Linked DNA regions of Homo sapiens: all the other regions are linked to region 3. Evidence: fine-mapped expression QTL. A gene starts in region 3. Each other region holds a variant in brackets. All regions are shown on one strand. Distances are from middle to middle.

Evidence for each region.
Region 1: its variant is fine-mapped to the expression of GPR65 in liver (GTEx, PIP above 0.99).
Region 2: its variant is fine-mapped to the expression of GPR65 in monocytes after LPS (Quach 2016, PIP 0.95).

What each region holds. Positions count from the first base shown.
Region 1 is chr14:87,378,042-87,385,372 of GRCh38, reverse strand. All of the region lies in intron 9 of LINC02296 (long intergenic non-protein coding RNA 2296), which reads left to right. Among named protein-coding and RNA genes, the nearest start is that of LINC02296, 230 kb to the left of the region's middle. The variant A/G (reference allele first, on the strand shown) is at 3,336.
Region 2 is chr14:87,979,232-87,986,277 of GRCh38, reverse strand. GALC (galactosylceramidase) reads left to right here. Exons shown (of 17, transcript NM_000153.4): 5 at 1,745-1,884; 6 at 4,035-4,073. Among named protein-coding and RNA genes, the nearest start is that of GALC, 10 kb to the left of the region's middle. The variant A/TA (reference allele first, on the strand shown) is at 2,960.
Region 3 is chr14:88,001,325-88,008,655 of GRCh38, reverse strand. GPR65 (G protein-coupled receptor 65) reads right to left here and starts at 3,521. Exons shown (of 2, transcript NM_003608.4): 1 at 3,434-3,521. RefSeq lists enhancers at 2,077-2,136, 2,937-3,106.

The DNA of each region.
Region 1 (7,331 bases), 620 kb after region 3:
TTTGAAAGCATTTTATTCTTTTAAAGAATTGTCCTGGTTTTCTGCTATTAGATATAATTTAAGTGTTCCTACATACTTGAATCAGAAGTATAAAATATTAAGCTTTTTAAAAACTTATTCTGGAAGTTCAAACTTACCTTTTTTAATGTATTGCCTTGGATAAAGGGCAGAGGCCATCATTCTAAATGACATTTTGTATGAAGTAATACATTATTTCTAGTACCTGTGGTTTTTTCTTAAAACTTTTATCACCTGAAATGACCTCTCAGTAAAGGCTTTTGAAAACTATAAATCTCTGATGTGTGTGTTTTAAATTCAATTATAGAAAAGTATTTTAAGAAAAGACACTGGTGCAGATGTTTAAAAACACTGCATTAATATAAAAGCAGAGATAAAGATACTTGAAAAAGACAGCCTTGACAAAAATTATGTTCAACCAACTGTGCAGCACTCTAGTTTATGAAAGATACAGAAGCAACAGATTTTGATAGGGACTAAGCATTGAAGTACCCATTTTTTAATCATTACACATGAAGAAAAAACAATTATTCAATTATCTTAGGGAACCTCTTTGTTTTTCTCCAAGATGGGGGAGTGGTGTTTCTCATCATTTTAATCTGAATCTTGTTATATCACTTGGGTAGTCATTTACTTTAAAAATACTGGAGAGTAAACAGTGTAGTGAATACATATGTTATAAAGTTTAAACTGTGTCTTAAGCCCATTCGTGTTTGAGAACCCAAAGCACACTAAAAGAAAAACATGCTAGGGAGGTCAATTAAACTCTTTAAATATTGTTATCAAGCTCCACACCGAGGGGTTTGTTTATCAGTATGGGAGTCATTATAGAAATAAGGTGTGTTTGTTTTGGTGCTTGGCTAGAAACATTGCTGTGCTCCTAGCAGAGATATGTCCTAGTCAGCAGCAGACTTACCATCTACAGAGCTCTGCAATTATGAATTTCCTCCATCCAGACTTATGGCTAAAAACATTGTGGGACTTTAAAACATAGTAATGGTTAGGCATCCTCCAGACTATTTAAATTTGAGTCTTTGGGGAGAAGGACTGCACATTGAGCCTCACAGAGGCCCTGTGGTCTTGTCACCATATCTCTGTCTAAATTCATGTGTTACATAAAGGAAAAATGATTATTAAATGGATATTAAAAAACGATTCTGTCATACTCAATGGTAGACAAGTTAAAAGAAAAGTGGCAAGTAGCAAGTTGTTCTGACATTTAGGGGATATTGATTACCTTGGCTGCTGAAGGTACATCTTTGTTTAAAATGTGAGACAAAAGGATAGAAAAAGAGTAGAACTGGGTTTTCAAATATAGAAAGGGGGAAAATAGTTAAGAATAGAAAATAACTCTCTAAATACCCAGGTGATAAGAAGCTAGAAGGATGATATCCTTTTAAGCCCCAACCAGTTGATTCATTACCTAAGGATTTTAACAGTGTCAACCATCCAAAAAAATGCTGCCTATGGAAAATACAGAAATTAATCAGGACATGCCACATGATACAGAGAGGTGAAACTGCCGAGTGAGGGAGAAAAGTCTTGCACCAGACTACAGGTACAAACCACATGGAAAGAATACAGTTAGGAACAAAAAGAAAAGAAAAGAATAAAAGCAAAGAAAGGAAGAGAAAAGGAAAAGAAAGAGAAGAGCTCATTTCTCAGAATATAGATAAAAAATGATAATAAATTTTAACATCAATTAGACTCATCAAGAATGAGAAAATGTACTTATAGAGCTTACCAAAGAAGGAGATGCCTCCACTACTGAAGTATATACTTGCTTGCAGGCCAAAAAGACTTACCCATAGCTAGAACCACTGTGTAATGGCAAAGGGTTGGAAAAAATATTGTAGAAGTCAAATAAAGGTTAAAAGAAGAAAGCCAGGATGGGAGGGACTTATCAAGAGGCAGAAAACTTTCTTAAAACTTGAGTAGTGGCAGAATCCCTGGGAAATCATTTCTGATGAAGGAAATTATGCTTACAATGGTTCCAGAAGCATTTCACATAGAGATGAGAGTTAACATATTAGGCAGTACAGAAACCACCTACATTGTAATAGAAGCCATGCCGTTAGAATTCTTGGGAAGATTTGATTACCCTTAGCCATTCAACAAGAACAACAACAACAACAACAACAATAACAAAAATAAGGCAATACATTGACAGAGTTGAGAAGAATTAGCAGAAAATGAGGTCCTGAAAAATAATAGGAAATTATTATGTGAAATAATATTATTGTGATATAGTGAAAGTTATCCTAGATTTCAGGAGAAAATTGCTCAAACAGGATGCCTCAGCAGATAGCAGTTATTACATAAACTTACTAACCCCTACCAGCCATACTAAGTCAGAGAAACAGAGCCAACATTGGCACAGGGTACCACAGGGCACAATGGAGGCTCCCAGAACCTAGCGATTCAATGAATTTTACACAGAGAACTGGAGTGCTCCAAACTAGTCATGCATAATCCAGAAAATCACCCATACAATAGCGTAAAGATTCACTGACATTCAAATTGTCAATAGTCAAAAATAGCATTAAGTGGTACTGAGACCCATGGGATGACTTTTCTGGTAAATGTAGAGTTCTTTAAAGTTGTTTAAAAGAGTAGAAAAAGTAGAATCTGATATTTTGGTAAAACAGTAGTATTTATATAGTAAAAACTAAAGTTAAACTGGAAAAAGATAGGAAGCCAATTAGAGTATTTGAAATGGTATAACCATAACTTTGAACGTGTAACTGGAATGAATAGCTTGGGGGCAAAAACCTACCTTTTGAATTAGGAGAAAAATAAATTGATTACCCAGATGATTGTGCAGGAGACTAAAGGGAAAGTGGTGGAAATGTTTCTTCAAACATGTGACTAACACCTTGTGGCTTATAAATAGGAATAAAAACCTCTTAAAACATAAAAAGGAATAGATACTTATGGATAAGTTTAACAAATTATATGCAAAACATGTACACTGCAAACTACAAAACTTTGCTGTGAGACATTAAAGAAGATTTAAATGAAAATATTTACCATATGTATGAATTGGAAGACTAAATATGGTTGTCAATTTTTCTCAATTAACTAAAAATCAATCAAAATCCTAATAGGCTTTTTTTGGTAGAAATTAACAAACTATTTCTAAATTTTATGTGGAAATACAAAGAACCTAGATTAGCGAAAACAATTTTTGAAAGACCTACAAAATTGAAAGACTTTGCCTGATTTGAAGATTTACCTTAAAGCAACTTTAAATTCTTTCAAGCATGTTAAAAATGAGCAAAATGTATGAGTAAACTCTTAATAGAATGACATGTAAG[A/G]TTCTTCAACAAGCACATGAGATTTTTTACGTCATTATTCATCAGAGAAATATAAGTTTAAGCCGCTGTAAAGTACTATTACACACAAATTTGCATGGCCAAAATTAAAAAGACTAGCAGTACCAAATATTGGTAGGGATATGGAACAATTGGAACTATCATTGCTGGTGGGCACATAAAATAATGCAATTTCTTTGCATGTACTACCATGCCCAGCTAATTTTTTTTTTTGTAGAGATGAGGTCTACTCTATGTTGTCCAGGCTGGTCTCAAACTCCTGGACTCAAGCGATCTTCCCACCTTGGCCTCTCAAAGTGCTGGGATTTACAGTCTGAGCCACTGCACCCAGCTGGATCATGCTTTTAACCATAAGATTGAAAAGACCTAAGTAAGGAAAGGACTGGGCCAAACAGTACAATGTAAATGTTTTATATAATTATAAAATAAATAAAACTCAAATAGAAGAAAACATCTTTTTCTAAAACTTAAATGCAATGTAAAAAATGAACCTAATTGTGTCAAGAGTAGGTTGTTCAATCAGAAATAGAGGATTCTTTCCATGAACAGATACAGTTTATTGTAATTTTTGAAATATCACAAATTGATTTGGGCATCATTTAGAATCTTGCTGTTTTAGCACTTGGAAAATTTTTGAAGGTTTTTGAGAGTCATGAGGTTGTATTTAACTGCTGTGGCTTACTCAGTCAAGGAAGGTAAATTTAATACATATTTATTATTGTATCTTTCAAGAATTAACTAGTTTTCTGGGATTGAGACTGCTGAAAATGTCAGCACCTGGCATTATTTGAACTAAGCAGACGTATTTTCCATATAAGATACTTGGACTTTTAAAGTGATTCTTTCTGAAATAATATTAATGGGAAACTGATCACACACAAATCTCATCTTGTAATAGAAGCCCCATATGATTCCCTTGATTGTGTTTTATATGAGACTATATGTCATACAAACCATGGCCAATTCTATTTCCCTCAATATTTGTTAACCCAGAGTTTTGTCTTTTTATTTGCAAAGAGTTCTCTGCTGAATGACTGAATTGTTTCTGCAGATTTTCTAGAAAACTTAACAACTGCAAGTCCATTCAGAGTGTTTTTGAAGAATTGTCTTCATAAGTCTCATACTAGGAGTGGCAGAGAGAGAGACTATTGTGAGTGACTTTATGGAAAGATTGCATATACAAAGTAGGACATATTCTAAGGAAAAAAGAGCCAAAAAGAAAGCTTAAAATATCTTTAGTAATCATAGTGGAAGTAAAAATAATATTGTTACTTCAAAAATATTATATATACAGAAGCATGATACAAATTAGGAACTTAAATATTTACATAAAAAGAAATATAAAGCTCATAATTAAAACACTACTATCTCTTTTGCTAGTATTTCTGCATATATATTCTGCTCACTTTGTCTTGTGTTTGCATTTCCTTGTATGTCCAGTTATTTTTGATTGAATGCACTTAATATAAAACATTATAGATATAATCTGAGACTTGATATATATGTGTACTTACATATACCTATATTACATATTTATATTTTTTAATTTTATTTTTATTTATTTCTAGATTTTCTACTTAATCTCAGTAAAAAGTTTGGCCAAATTAAATAATCTGCTGTTCCCAGAAGCTGAATTCTAGCTCTATTATGTTTTTCACCAGAACACTGATAAGAGATAATTTTCTTTCACTTTGCAGAAAAACACAATGTACCTTTTCCTGGATAATCAAGGTTACAGCAACAATCAAATTGTGTAGATAAGTTGTAGGGCTCATTATGATCTTCCAGGACATTTATGTAGCCCTATTGATGACGTTCTGTAACTGAGGCCTAATAGAACATGTACCTACGATCATATAAATAGAACTTCCAACAGCAATATAGGGTTGTTCACACTCTGGATTGTTTAAAGAGGTTGTTCAGTTTGTCTCAATCAATTAAAATAGAATTGGTACCTTCATGAAGGGGCCAAATCATGCAAATGTGTACATTATACTAAGATACTGCTAGTGAACTGCTGGGCCTTCTGTTATTTAAAAAGTGTACTTTACACCAGTAAAATAAAACTTTAAGAAAAACTTCTTGTTAATTTAGAGATTTACATAGAGAACACAAAAACTATGGCTACAGAAGCTGTGTCCTTACAACAGTAAGGAGGTTAATGGCAAAGCCTGTGCTTTTAACCCTAATACTGGACAGTTCTAAGTAAAGCAAGAACTAGGCCGATTAGTACAGTATCTTGAATTTCAGGAAATCTGGATGGCTGTATTAAGCACAGGGATCCGATTTCTCAGAAGCTCATACTTTTCCAGGTTTTAGATAATGACTGTCTATATGTTCAATAATTGGAAATAGTTTCTAAGTAATAGAAAAACAGTTTTGGAGAAAGAACTAAAGAAAGCACTAAGTGATTCATCAATACCAATTTGGGTGTATGATCTGTCAAAACAGTAAAAGAGAGACTTCCAAAAGAACAAATGCAGAGAGTGCATTTCTGGAGGCCTAAAATCTAATTAAAATTGCCTGGGACAACTGGAGATAGTGCTATCCTAAGACCCTTTCACAGGCATGTCAAGAAGAGAACAAAGAGATATCTGGTCTTTCCGGCATAAAATATGCACCATCTCCAATTGTCAAGAAAAGGACTTCCATTTGTGAATGTGAAATTTTTTTTAAATGAAGTAGTGAAGAGTCCCATGTGATAATTTACTGAGATTTTTAAATAAAACTGAAGGCCAAATTCCCAGAGGACTGATTTCAGGGAACCATTGGATTATACAGTACCTTTAAAAGCAGCAAAATCTGTTTTCTCATTGTGAGGGAGTTACAGTAAGAGAGGGAAACTGCATATTTTCCTCAGCTGTGACTGGCCAGAGTAAAATCAAGAGTGTGAAAAACTGTGTGCAAGATATGGAACCTCTGACACTGGAATTCAGAGATGAAAACTCAAGGCAGGGCAAAAATTATGCCGAATGGGCAAGTAGCATGGATAGTCAATGAGTCATTCACAGTTACATGAAGTAGCCCTCATAGTGGAAAAGTTGAATGGCCTATTAAGGAAAATTAAGAAAACACTTGGCTCCTGAATTTCACAGGAAATGGGCAACATGTTTCAACCCTGTATTAGGGACCTAAATGAGAGGCCATCAAAGGAATGCCACTATTCTGCCACGAGTAGTTATGTCCATAGCAGCCGCCAAAGAACACTAACGAGACATGTCCAGAAACAAAATTCTTTATGGTCACAAAGGCTGATGGAGTTGCCAACAAATTTCAAAGGTGATTTTGTCTCCAGCTGATATGACTCAATTGAATTTTTCCAAGCCATAGGTGAGACATGTTGAGGAATTCATCTTTTAATTATAAAATTAGGCTGGGCATGGTAGCTCACACTTGTAATCCCAGGAGTTTGGGAGGCTGAAGCAGGTGGATCGCCTGAGGTCAGGAGTTAGAGACCAGCCTGATCAACATAGTGAAACCCCGTCTCTACTAAAAATACAAAAATTAGCCAGGTATGGTGGTGCACACCTGTAGTTCTAGCTACTCAAGAGACTGAGGCAGGAGAATCTCTTGAACCTAGGAGGCGGAGGTTGCAGTGACCTGAGATCACGCCACTGCACTCCAGACTGGATGACAGAGCAAGACTCTGTCTCTAATAATAATAATAATAATAATAATAATAATAATAATAATAAAATTAGCTGGCCCAACAAAGTAGGAGGACTATTTAAGGTATTAATGTATCTTAAATGCCATCCATTAGAGAAAGACCAGAGGCATTCGACTTTCTAACCTAATGAAGTGCTAATATGCAAACTCCCTCTGTCTCTCTCTTACACACACAAATCACCAAGGAAATTGAGATGGTGGTGGAGGCAGAAGCAGAAATAATACATTGAACTAAAACCAGACAACTTTCACATGGTGAAGATTAACAAACCAAGGATAAACGAATCTTAATATGAAATAGATAAAATT
Region 2 (7,046 bases), 22 kb after region 3:
CATGACTCTTTCCATTTTCCAGGAAGAAGCAGTAGAAGCTTAGGAAGATTATGCCACTGACCTAAGGTCATAGACAGTTAGTAAATGGCAAAATCGGTGTTAGCACCTAATTCCATGTTTCCTATGATGCTAAACTACTTTCCTTCACAAGATCTGTCATCAGTATTTATAAAAGGGTAACACTGTTCACAAAAATGTATATTACATGCAGTAGTACACCTAACTAGTTACAAAATTGTATATTGCATGTAGTAGTGAACCCTATTTTTAGAAAAGGTACATACAAAAGTGTTTTTTGTTTATTAGTTAGTTTTTGAACTTCAATAATGTGCTGGTTACTGTTCTGGGACTCAGGAAGCCAATCCCGTCCCCAATTCCTGCACCTGTGGGGCTTAGGTTCTATTGGGAGGATCATTGGCTAGTTGCTTAAATGGGACTATGTACATTTCACAGTTCTGTGAGAATGTGTACAGAGCTTGTGAAGTATTTCAAACATCAAGAGTGATGGGATACTTTCATCATTTGAAATGAATTTGATTTTTTGAAACAGGCTTAAATTCAAACTAAGTTAAATGAAATTAATGATTCATTTTAAAGACCTGATTTCTAGTTATTTAAAAAATAATTTTCTCAACAATCAGGTTAATGAAAAGTAATATTTTCTAAGTTAAAAGAAATTAGGAGTAAGTATGTTCTTTATAAATGGGCTTTTGTAAGAGATTCCAGAAATGCTGTGAGCAGTAAAAGCATCACTGAATTCAGCACATATCCACTAGACTGCTTCCAAGGTCAGACCTCATTTAAATGTAGAAAATATGGCATGCTAAACCATGTCCTAACAAAGACTTGGTAGGCCTTCAGATTGCATTTAGCATTTCATTGTTTTCAAGAATTCTATTACTTTAATGTCACATTTCTTATGTAATACACTTGGGTGTTCCTCCTGAGTTTAGAAAATAAGCATTTTGTCATTTTGATTTTTATTTTTTTCAGTGGTGAACTAGTTTGGTAATATATTTATTGCTGAGGAACTTAACTATTGAGCCTATTTTAATATATTAGTAGCAAGTTAAATTTAGAATTATAATAAGTACTTTTCTACTCTTCTTATTTTTTTACTTAAACATAATCAGGATTATTGGAAGAATATGGACTTATTTGATGTGTATCACTTAACAAGGGTATATTTCTCTATGGAGTCATTGTCATTTATAGTGATATAAGAACAAACTAGTTTTGCTAAATTAGATTGCCTGACTGATTAATATTTTAAGGACCCTAAATTGTAAGAAGATGTACAATTGAATGATAAATTTGTGTTATACATAACTCAAGAGTAGTTTGGCATAAGCCTTTTAGAATTCTTTGATTTGACCTCAAAGAACAGAAGTTGAATATTGAACATTCCAACAGTGAGTGGACATGTTAAGTTAAAACATATGGTACATTTCTTTCTATTGGTAAGGGTCTTGGAGAGAGGTGTTTGTATTTGTTATTTTTCTTCTTCTTGGAAAGAACATTTGAAATTATGGGACCTGACTCTAGGGATCAATAAGGAATTATAGTGTCTATAGATTGGAAAGGATTTCAATAATTTTTATATGGTATATAAACTTTCCTTTAGTCAGATCTGTATTGGTTTTTTGCTAGTTGAATGCTTTTCTTAAAAAAAATTTGTTTTATTTTCAATAGCGCCAGCACCGTTATACCTCCTCTACCTTTGCCTCCTCCCTTCTCTCTGCAGGGTTGCCATGGTCATTCCCTGGATGGCTGGGAAAAGGTTTCGACTGGCCTTATGTCAATCTTCAGCTGACTGCCTATTATGTCGTGACCTGGATTGTGGGCGCCAAGCGTTACCATGATTTGGACATTGATTATATTGGAGTTAGTAATATATTTAAAATATGATTCAGTTTTGGACATTTGTTTGTAATTTAGAAAATAATTTGATTCTGTGGTACTTTTTGACTAACCATTTTATGCCATGAGGCTAATTTGTTCTAATGGTGTCTGATAATAACACAAACTAAGTACCTGTGACCTTTAATTGCTCCCCTTTGCCCATCCCAGTGTTCCCACTTTTGAAAACTGTGTTGAGTGTATACCTCCTTCCTCTGAGCTGGGTTTTTTTTTTTTTTTTTTGTATCAACCCAACTCAAATTCTCCTTCAAAGCTTTCCCTGCTTTCTCTGGTTCCTACAACAGTGTTGTGTTTCCTATACAGCTTATGGGGGGTTAGTCTCATTTTATCCTCTTGTTGTCTTAAGCCAAAGATTGGCAAACTTTTTATTAAAGGGCCAGAGCATAAATAGTTTTGGGTTTGTGGGCCAAAAGGCAATATTGAGGATCTTGAGGTAAATATATAGCCATTTAAAATGTAACTATTTAAAACTAAAAACACTTTTAGCTCTCAAGTTGTAAAATTACAGATGATGGGCCAGATTTGGCAGGCTGGCTGAAATCTGCGTTCACCTGTCACAAACTGTTAGTTAACACCTTTTAAGGATTTGAAAAGTATGAAAAATGATATCATGTCCAGCTTGTCTCTTGGCTGGGTGGAGGCATGCCCCAGGCTGCATCGTACCCCACAGGGCCTTAACACACACATAGTGGGTCTCCATAATCATTTGCTTATTAATATACCATCAGTTAAAACTAATACTTAAACATTTTCATGCAATCATGACTTAGATTATCAGCAAACAATTATTGAGTTCCTACTGTGTTGCAGGAACTGTGACTGTAATATTTGAGGGCTACTAAGATTAATAAGCTCTTGTGTTCAGTAAGAGAAGTAGATGCTGGAACATATAAACTGTAATACTACATGATGATACAGGGCATGAGGATGAGCCAAGGGCTGGAGGAAGTCAGAAGAAAGAATATACTAGTTTTTGCTATCCTTTTCCAAATTATGACTGAAAAATTAGTTTATATTTGAGAACTTTCCTTTTTTTTTT[A/TA]CACTGTCACCCGGATTGGAGTGCAGTGTTGTGATCTTGGCTCACTGCAACCTCTGCCTCCTGGGTTCAAGTGATTCTCCTGCCTCAAGTAGCTGGGATTACAGGCACCCGCCACCACACCCAGCTAGTTTTTTTTTCTTTTTATTAGAGACGGGGTTTCACTATGTTGGCCAGGCTGGTCTCAAACTCCTGACCTCGTGATCCGCCCGCCTCGGCCTCCCAAAGTGCTGGGATTACAGGAATGAGCCACCACGCCTGGCCGGAGAACTTTCTTAAATGTCAGGACATTTATAACCTGTAGTGAGACTAAATGTAGGTTTGGTCTAATAGCTTTCTCTTATGGTACAGTCACAAGTAATGGGTGATTCACATCTTGTTTAGACTCATGATAACAAATGCTATGATGAGGAGGTTCATTGATAAACTCTTTCCTGTATCATTGGAGTAAAAAGACCTGCACCTGGATTCTAGAATCGTCTCTTGTTATTAACAGTTTTCTCAACTGTGGAGTTATGGAAGTTCTTTCAATTCTAAAACCCCATGCTTCATGACTCTAAACCTAATAGATGTATATATGTTCCTTTTATCCATCCTCATTCAGAGTTGCTTTTGTGACTAGTGTATTACTGTGATTCTCTGTGTATGCTTAAAAATATGCCTTCTATACAGTATACATATTAATACTTGGCTTTCAGGGATCTTGTCATAATTGTTGTAACAGTTTCCCTGTCTATTAGTTCTCCAATGCCTAGTATAGTTTCTGGCACACATTGTACTGTCAGTATGTGTTGAATGAATTAATGAATATTCCATTGTTGAAAATCTTTGGAATAAATTACTTTTTGAAAAATACCCACTAAATATTTTAAGGTTTTTAAAAATAATATTTTAATTTTTAAAAAGTTGTGCTATCTTATAACTATCTATAAATTCTATGGCAGGATATCCCATAAAGTTAAAAAATGGCGTATCAGATAATATGAAAGATGATGAGAGAAATGGTATCGTAACGATAATCTGCTTTCTGACATTTTGTAACTTTCAATTCAGACTTTTTTGACTTTTTGTTTTGCAGATTTGGAATGAGAGGTCATATAATGCCAATTATATTAAGGTGTGTACAACTTTAGTATCTTTTTGTTTTTAACTTTTTAGTGAATAATTCCTTATGGTTCCTAACACAGAAAATAGTAGGAAATTTGTGTTGGAAATACCGTATTTTTTATACTACAGTTATTTATTTTGCTGGTTGTGACATAAAATTCAAGCAAAATCTTAACAATGTTTATATTCCTGATATTAAAGCATATGTAATTCTTTGTGAGCCCCGAATTACCTTTGTCTAAAGAGTTGTGTTGAATTTTTCTATTTTAAAATTCATTAGTTTTGGAATTCTGATAAATTTTATGAAACAATTATATCATTTTAGATTTTTAGAACTTCAAGAAATGTAGCTTTTTTTCTTTGTCTTTTGTCAAAACTTATGGCATATATTCTAATTCTTGTTTTCTATTGGAGTGTGTTATAGTACATGTTTCTCTTTGTGATTAGCAAAGAGGTAGCAGTAACATCTGCCAATTGTGTTATTTTTGTTCCACTTTTCCTATTTATCTCCATTTAATTCTCACAACCTTACCTATGAGGTAACTACTGTAATTGCTATTTTCCAGGAAAGGAAAAACAGAATAATAACTTCTGCCATTGGAAAAAAAATGGCAGTTTCACTTTTCAGGTGGAGCTAATCTTTAGTTTACTTTTCACTTCCTTTTGTCTTCTTGTATGTATCTTTTCTCTAAGAAATATAATTTTGGGACAGTATTTTATTTCAAGTTTTCAAAAATTTTTATATTAATTTTTTTTTATTTCCATAGGTTTTTGGAGAATAGGTGGTATTTGGTTACATGAGTAAGTTCCTTAGTGGTTATTTGTGAGATTTTGGTGCACCCATCACTGGAGCAGTATACACTGAACCAAATTTGTAGTCTTTTATCCCTCACCTCCTTCCCATCCTTTCCCCGAGTCCCTAAAGTCCATTGTATCATTCTTATGCCTTTGCATCCTCGTAACTTAGCTCCCACTTATGAGTGAGAACATACGATGTTTTGTTTTCCATTCCTGAGTTGCTTCACTTAGAATAATAGTCTCCAATCCCATCCAGCTTGCTGCAAATGCCATTAATGCATTCCTTTTTGTGGCTGAGTAGTACTCCATTGTATACATACACCACAGTTTCTTTATCCACTCGTACTGATTGATGGGTTTTTGGGCTATTTCCATATTTTCACAAATCCATCAATCCTGCTACTGGGTATCTACCCAGAGGAAAAGAAGTCATTATACAAAAAAGATACTTGCACATGCGTGTTTATAGAAAAAAATTTTCTTTGAATTGGATGTTTTATGTTCTTAAGTAGATAAGGTTCAATACATTTCTTTCATCTCTTCATTCGGTTAATCATAGAGCATTTATTTGCTCAACACTGGTTTGTCAGGCATTGTGTGTATGGTTATAATATAAGGATAGAGAATACTGTTTTCTGCCCAAAAGGATTTTTTGTATTGGGGAGGGTGGTTATAAAGTCAGATATAGACAATTAAAATGTGTCATAATTTGGAATGTGTCAAATAATGGAATAATACACCTACAGGGTTCTTAAAAGGCGCACAGAGGAGATGACACCTCTCCCTGGGTTGATTAGGGAAGTCTTTTAGAGGAGGTGATGTGTAATTTGAATCTTCAAGAACGGATGGATAGGAACTCTCCACTTTGCTAAGGCAGGGGCATATCATGTGCAAAGAACTGAAGATTGAGAGGTAAAGGGATATGGGGGAAAAACAAGTCATGAAAGATGGATTAGACAATGGAGGAAGAGTGGGGGCACTGACCCCCATCAGTAAGCTAATGTATTCACTGGAATAATGGCTTTTTTTTTTTTTTTGACAGAGTCTCTCTCTGTCACCCAGGCTGGAGTGCAATGGCGCCATCTTGGCTCACTGCAACCTCTGCCTCCCGGATTTAAGCAATTCTCTGCCTCAGCCTCCTGAGTAGCTGGGATTACAGGTGCCCACCACCACGCCCGGCTAATTTTTTTGTATTTTTAGTAGAGACGGGGATTCACCATCTTGGCCAGGCTGGTCTTGAATTCTTGACCTTGTGATCCGCCCGCCTCGGCCTCCCAAAGTGCTGGGATTACAGGCATGAGCCACTGCGCCCAGCCAATAATGGCATATTTTAATTAATCTGTAGTTGTAGGCGTGGAGAAGGCATAGATTGAGAAGATCTATTGCAGCCAGAGCTAGGTACTCAAGGGCAATTCCAGGTTGAAGTATGCTGATGGGAGTGTGGTGGTGGGAGCAGATTGGGTGGGGGAGGTGGGGCAGTGGAGCTATTAATAAGATTGGAGCACAGGGATTGTAAGTGGAAAGTCATGCCTGCTGTGAGCACAGGTCTGATAAGAGCAGTAAGGGGACAGAGCAGAAGCCAAGTTGGTGCATGTATACTGGATAACTCTGTAATGAGGTAGATGGTGTTGCTACAGCATCTTCATAGTGAAAGGTGATGAACTTTTTAAATACCCAAATTTGACATTTCAAAGCTTAAGTTTTATTTTCTTGTGATTGTACACATGTCTCTCTTGTGGTCATTTCATTTGAGGGAAACATTAAAAGTATTACGGTTTCCATTTTCTTTTAAACTAATGAAATAAGACAGGGCTATATTTTATGTTATTTGAACTTTTTTACTATTAAGAGTCTGTTGCTGACTCCAGTGCATTCTAATTCAACTAACCTGGTTTGAAAGACTAATTGTTGCTCTAAGACATATTTTCAGTGTTTCAGACAGTTCAGACTTCATTTCCTTTTTTTTGAACCTTGAGTTTTCTTGCAGTAAAATCTCTCAGGATACAAAAACTTTTTACTTTGTGTTTGCCATTTTTTTCCAGCAAGATTTTATTGGGATCTGTGTTCCGTTTGTTGAAATGCCTGTTGCAGGCCAGGCTCAGTGGCTCGTGCCTGTAATCCCAGCACTTTGGGAGGCTGAGGCAGGTGGATCACCTGAGGTCAGGAGTTTGAGACCAGCCAGACC
Region 3 (7,331 bases):
TCAACATAAACGCATACATATGTTAACCAAAAGACAGGTACTAGAATTAGAATATTCACAGTAACACTACTTGTAATATCCCTTAACTAGAATGCCCACTAGCAGTATAATAGATGAGTAAATTGGGATATAGTAACACCACTGAAATCTACACCTCAATGAAGATGAATAAATTATTGCTACATGCAATCGCATGGTTGAAGATCACAAATGTAATTCTGAGTGATAAAAAAAAAGACACAAAAGAGTATGTATTATCTGATACAAACCAGGCAAAGTTAATCTATGATGTTAGGAGTCTGGGTAGTGGCTACCTCTGGGGAAAGGCTGAGTACTGTTGGAAGAGGGCATGAGGAGGACTTCTGAGATTTGGCAATGTTCTATCTCTTGGTAGGGGTGGCTGGTTCCATGAGCATGCTCAGTTTGTAGAAATGCATCAAGCTGTACACTTAGGATATGTGCATTTTGCTGCATGTGTATTGTATTGCAATGGAAACATTAAAAAGTGGAATCAAAAGGCTGTGTGAGATGGCATGTAGAGCATCTTGACAAACAAACATCTGTTTTACCCACAGATGGAACATATATGCCTTTTTAAGAAATCTGATCTTATTTCTATCCTCATACATAAAATGTAATTGAGAGAAAACAATAAATAAATAATTTACCTAATTATGAAAATAACTTCACCAAAAATAAAGGTTAACTATATATGAAAAAATAAATTCTAGGCTCCTGGAAGAAGTTGACACAGATCCCCCCTTGAACAAGTCCTCTTTAACTCAGGCCTCAAAGAATCCTACAGATAGAGTTCTAACAAATATGACCTTATTCACACACACACACACACACACACACACACATACACACAGAGAGAATAATAAGCAACTACGTGTCAGATTGAGCAGAAACAACAAAGTAAACCAGATCCACAAAACTTTAGAGATAAAATTTATATATATATATATAAAAAACACAAAATATGTTTAATATGTTTAAAGAAACAAAAGAAGGGATTTAAACACATGAGTAAGGAGGAAGAGATTAAAAAATGACAAGCCATATTTTTAGAAAGATTGAAAAAGACTTTCTAAAAATAAAAATAATAATAATTTAAATTTAAAAATAAACACAGGGAGTAACCAACTGATTAGATCCAGCTGAAGAGAAAATTTGTATATTGCAAGATAGAGATAAAGAAATAACACAAAATTATCAGCATGTTAAGGACATGGGAAAATATAAGAGATATGGAGAAAAGGTGAAAAGGGTGGCATATACATAATTGGAATTCCATAAAGATCGAAAAGAGAGAATGTTGAAAAGGCAATATTCACAAAGATGATGAGCTTTCTAGAACTGATGAAGGAATCTTGAGGATGGATGAAGAATCCTCATGCATCTTCAATCCTCATGAAATCTGCAGATTTATGAAGCTTAGAAAATCCCAAATAGGATTAAAAACACAAAAATGGAAACCTATACTTAGACACATTGCAATAAAATTGCAGTTCACCAAAGACTAAGGAAAAAAGAGCCAGAGAGGAAAGATGGACTACCTATGAAGGATGGAATTTAGACGGACAAAAGACTTCTCAACAGCGATAACAGACAGCAGAAGATTAAAAGTTCCAAATTGCTAAGAAAATATATGTCATCCTATAATTATATACTCAACAGAACTAAATTTCAAGGACCAGAGCAAGAATTAGGACATTTTCAGGTAAACTACCACTCAGAACATTTACATCCAAAATCCCCACTAAAGAAACTTCTAAAGGATATAACTGAAGTAGGAAAAGGACACTAGGGTAATGTCTGCGATGCAGGAAGATTGAATCAGCCCCCGCGGATGGGACTCTGATGCACACACAACACGTCCAACACCAGGCTCATGTGTCTTGGGAAGAACACCTGAACCATGAAAACATCCTCCCCTTAAGACCAGGACCGAGAAAGTCGGGTAATGGGCAGCATGTGCCTCTTCCTCCTTTGTCCGTGTTACTCAATAGATAGTCATCATTTTCTTTAAAAATGGTATGACAGATTAAATGAAAAAATGATTTTTAGAAAGGTTTATAAAGTTTTCAATGGAATACATTTCTCTAGCTGTAAAAGCATTTCCTGCCTTGACTTAACCACAAGACAGGATGGGTTGATGAAGCAGAGGCCCTCTTCTTTGTAGTGACGCAGAGGCAGTACAGGCTTGTGGTTAAGAGCGTGGGCTCTGGAGACAATTCGAATGCCTCTCAACAGCACTCTGGGCCCATTGGTGTTTCTTCACCTCTCTAAGTTCCAGTTTTCACATGTGTAAGTTAGTACCCAGTTTCTAAGATTGTTGTGAGGGTTAAATGAAACGACATATGAAGCAAAGTTCCTAGCACATGGGAGGCATTCACTGTACGTTAGCTGGTAATATTGTTTTAATGACATTGGTAGTCTGCACCAATCTTTGTGCTGTCCCCTACATTTTCTGAAAAGAAATCATCTTTAGTCATCTAGCCACAGCATAGCAGAAAAGCTGGAGGTGCTCAGAGTGTAATTTATATGGTAACACTTCACGTATAATACTAGGCTCTGCAGATAATAGTTGTTCATTTAATTTGGGTGGATCTGAGATTTTAGTGGAATACTGTATATAATTCCTATTACAGTATTCACATATCTTTTCAGATATTATTTTGCCTCCTTTAATCAAATTTTGAGAAAATTGTTTTTAGAACAAGCACTGAGAAATTTTGGTGAGTTTTTAATTTTTTAATTTTTACCAGATGTCAAAAAAGACAATCTACAGTATATTAAAGTATATCTATTCTTGAACAGATCTAAAAATAGTACAAATCATTGATGACGATGACCAAAAGTACAATATTTTCCTACAGTGTTATAGAAAATGCTTGCTTTCATCTATCAGTTTAATAGTTACTTATTAAGACTCTACTATATATTTCAGGCACTGTGGTAGTCACTTATTAACTAATAATTATTACTTGACATTTATTAATACTGGAAATATTCTTTCCTAATATCACATTTTTTTCTGATGGATATAAAAAGTATTTACTGGACCATTGTACAGATGAGGGATTGGTGCCAGATAGCTCTAAAGCCAGGGGCTGGTAGGCTTCTTCCTAATACTGAATGAAGTTTGCCAAAGCACTGTTTCCTGAAAAGAAAATAAAGTATGAACAACCCCCTTTTTCTATATCTATGGTTTTGCCTAATTAGTTCTAAATTTAAAGTTTGGCCCTTTACCACTGCTCAAAGTAGAGGAAACCATGTGTCTTCCTCATTTCTTTCTCTCTTATCATGCTTTGCATTACCACATTTATACAGCCTAAACCAGGAAGAATGTTGCGAACATCACTGACAATTATGCCAAAGCATGTTATCTACTTTAAAATATTATTTTATTTTTTAATCTTATACTTACCCATATTTCTTCCGGTGATGTGTTTGTTGACTGAGGAGCTTGATAAATCTGTGCCTGCATCAAGTCAAGAAGAGAAACCAACACTGCTGAGGGGACAGGAAATTGCACTCATATTTCAGCACAAACCAATGAGGAAGCAGCATCTCAATGAGAAGGGTGTGCGTTATCCAAGTTTGAACAAAAAAAGTCTCTTAAATACTTTTAAAGATGTTTTTATTTATTGTTTACTGTACTGTAATTTTTATAACTCACTTGTCTCATTGCATCTTAATTACAAGTATGTACTGATATTATATTATATGCCCTTTACTTAATGGAATATATGTTAAATATTTTATTTATTTCTTTGTTCATTCATTCATTCATTCATTCATTCACTCATCATGCCAGCAGTGTGCGGGGAGATGTATACGAACTGGCTATCAACCAAAAGCAGCTTTTTTTACCTAGTAAAGGAGAAAGACATGTTTAATAATGATTGTAATGCAATGGCAAAATGAAGAAGTACTTCAAGAGGGGTACAGATAAAATAGAATGAACCATTTGGATGTGTGAGATAGGGGAGGATATTGTAGGTAGATTCAGGGTGATAAAGTTCCTGGGACAAAAACAGAAAAGGGAGAATTGAGGCTGAGGGGTTTAATGATGGATATTGTGCTGCTTAAGGCAGGGGTTAAGGTAGCCAACCTCATACCGTCTTTCTTTTCTTTTTTTTTTTGAGAGACTAATGGGATTAGATATATAGTATTTGATTGTAGAACTATTTTCTCCTTTGATTCTCTCCTCTTGGAAACAGAGATGGCTAAAAACCAGTTGAATTAACTAGCTGAGACAAATAATTTTATGAAACTTGAAAATTTTATTTAAGACTTACATTGTTATTATAAAAACTCTTGTACTTTAGCAAGTTAAAGTTAATGCCAAATCTATAAGTGGTTTAATATGAAGTGAAATTAGCTCCTATAACTTTCTTACTATTGATATATAAAAAAGTCAGAAATATCACTTTTGAATCTTGCCCTCATAAACTTTTATTAGAAATGAAGGGAAAATATTATTTGAAAGAACAGAATTTATTTGGGATGAAAACATTTGACTTAATTTTAAAGATGTAATCAGGACATTTTGAATCTGTGTTTGTTAAAGGACATTAAGGGTTGTTGCTGGTGTTTTTTTTTTGTTGTTTTTTTCTCCCTACCCAGAGATAGAAAAGATTAGCCTGTATATAAGCAAGGCTTTCCATATTGAAGTTGATCAGGGTATATCAGGAATGTAAAGATTTTCAATACTTCCGTTGTAGGTCTTTCTTTGAGAATAATAAAACTAATACCTTACATTTATAAAGCACAGGATAGTTTATAAAGTAATTTAGCATATAGTAAATTATAAATCAATATATTGTTACTGAAATAATAAAAATTAAGTATAAAGTAAAAAATTAACAATAAATGTCTTGAAGTTTTACAAAAATGAAAAGTAACGATTTCAGTTTACTTGTGACTGTAATTCAAAGTTCTCATTTTTGCTTGGTTTCGTACATCTGCTTATCTGTGGTTTCTATACATGATATATCTTTTTTTAAGTTCGGGGTACAAGTGCATTGTTACGTAGGTATTTCATTACTCTGATGATCTCTTACTTTATCTGAATAGACTATACTTCTGCTTTTAGGGAAAGGGTATTTTCATGTCCATATCTAATATTCATGTATTTTGCTTTTCAAAAGAAAAAGATTATCATTAAGAAACATAAGAAACACAAACTTTCACTTCTGATTAAAGAGGAGAAAAAGCTGGAGCTGACCTATGCTAAAACCTTGCCAACTCTACACAATAAGAAATTTACCAGCTTTTAAGAAATTTGCTTCTTAATATGGAAAATATGGCAATACTGTATTTTCAACTATAGGGCTATCTTTTATAATGAACGGTTAGAAATTTTAAATCATTGAGTCACTGTGACATTTTAACAACATAACAATGAGATAAAGACAATTAGTAGTTATTCAGAACACTGCCTTAACGGGGTTGGCATTTCTGACCAGTCAATTATTTGGTTTTCTGTGGTCACAATCTGGGGACCCAACACTGGCCAGTTGGGCTACTCATGGGGTAATGGGGAGGAGATTGTGGATCTACCTGGTTCCAACTTCTCCATTGGGCAGACAGTGCAAGAGTGTGTTCTACTGATGAAGGGGTCCTTTGTGAGGCCACACTATCTGCTAGGTGTAATTTCACTAGCTAAAGCGGCAACTAAATATGGCAGGGTAAGATTTTGAAATAATGCTATATTTTCCCAGCCACATTTCTTTTCACTCTAGCCCTACCCTTACACAATCAGTGAGCCATTTTGCATTTATTGCCTCAAGGAAATTTCTGGCACAAGCGGGGGGGAAAAAAAGAAGACAATGTGAGTTTTGACTTTCAAAAATTCAAGGCCTTGGAAAAGACTGAGGCACAGACACTATGCTTGGGAGAATATGTGCTGAAATAAAGTAAAGCTTCCCAGCCCCCAAAACTGAAAAAGATTGTCCTGCTTGGCGGGGGTTGGGTTTAACGTTGTGAGAGAGGAAGTATGTTCAAGAGTTAGATGTGGTCAGTGCTTGAGAAAGGGGCCCTGCATCCTGATTGCTGTACTCACTTCCAAGCAAGCCCTGAGGTAGGGGTGGGTGACAAACACCCTAGATGAGTTGTGTGATCTGGGGAGGAGAGTGAACCTGTGCCTCATTTCCAAGGAGAGACTCAGGAGTATGTACCTGAGAGACCTCACTGTCATAGTTGGGTATGGTTTGTTTGTCTTTATAAAGCTGGTGTTGATTTGATTCCCAGTGTGGCAGTAGTGGGAAGTGGGGCCCAGTGGGAGACGTTTGGGCAATGGGGGTAGATCCCTCCTTAATGGCTTGGTGCTGTTCTGAGGTAGTAAGCGAGTTCTCTTTCTGGATTAGTTCTCCCAGGAATGGATTAGTTCTCGAGAGAGTGGGCTATTATAAGAGCCTGGATACCTCTCCGGCCCTCTTTGCATGTGTCCACTTTCCTTTGGACTTTCTTTGCCATGCTGTGATGCAGCATGAAATCCCTTGCCAGAAGCTGGGACCACATCCTTGAATTTCTTGGCCTACAGAATCATGAGCTAAATAAACCTCTTTTCTTTATAAATTATCCAGTCTCACGTATTATTTTATAGCAACACAAAACAAACTAAGACACTCATCAAGTCCCTCTGTGCCCGTATAGCACAGGTGGAGTAGAATGAGGGGCACAAAGAAGTGATGGGAAGCCTCAGCCCATCTCACAGCACTTTCAGTGGCCCAGTGTGGCACTTTGTGTCACGGATGAGGGACAACTCAGGTTAATACTACCTGGGCTAACTACCAAAGACCAGAAGGGAAAGGGGGTGTCTCAGGGGATGCCAGCATTGATAGAGGGCAGTTCTGAGAACCAAGGGTCAAGCCACCTTCCAGTCCTGGCAACATGAAAAGTCCCTAAATCTTAGCTGGTGTTATGAACTGAACTGTGTCCTTTCCCAAAATTCATATGCTGAAGCCCTAATCCTCAATACTTCAGAATGTGGCTGCATTTGGATATAGAGCCTTTAAAGAGGTGATTAAATTAAAATAAAGCCCCAAGGATAGGCCCTAATCCAATCTGACTGCTGTCCTTATAGGAAGAGGAAATTTGATAGCCTAGAAGAAACGGAGAAGTTCCTAGGCACATACAACTTACCAAGACTGAAACATGAAAAAAAAAACAGAAAGTCTAAACAGAGTAATAAAAAGTAAGGAAATCTGATTAGTAATAAAAATTCTACCACCGAAGAAAAGCCCAGGAAGTCGTCACTGCTGAATTCTACCAAACATTTAAAGAAGCCATACCAATCCTTCTCAAACTCTTCCAAAATA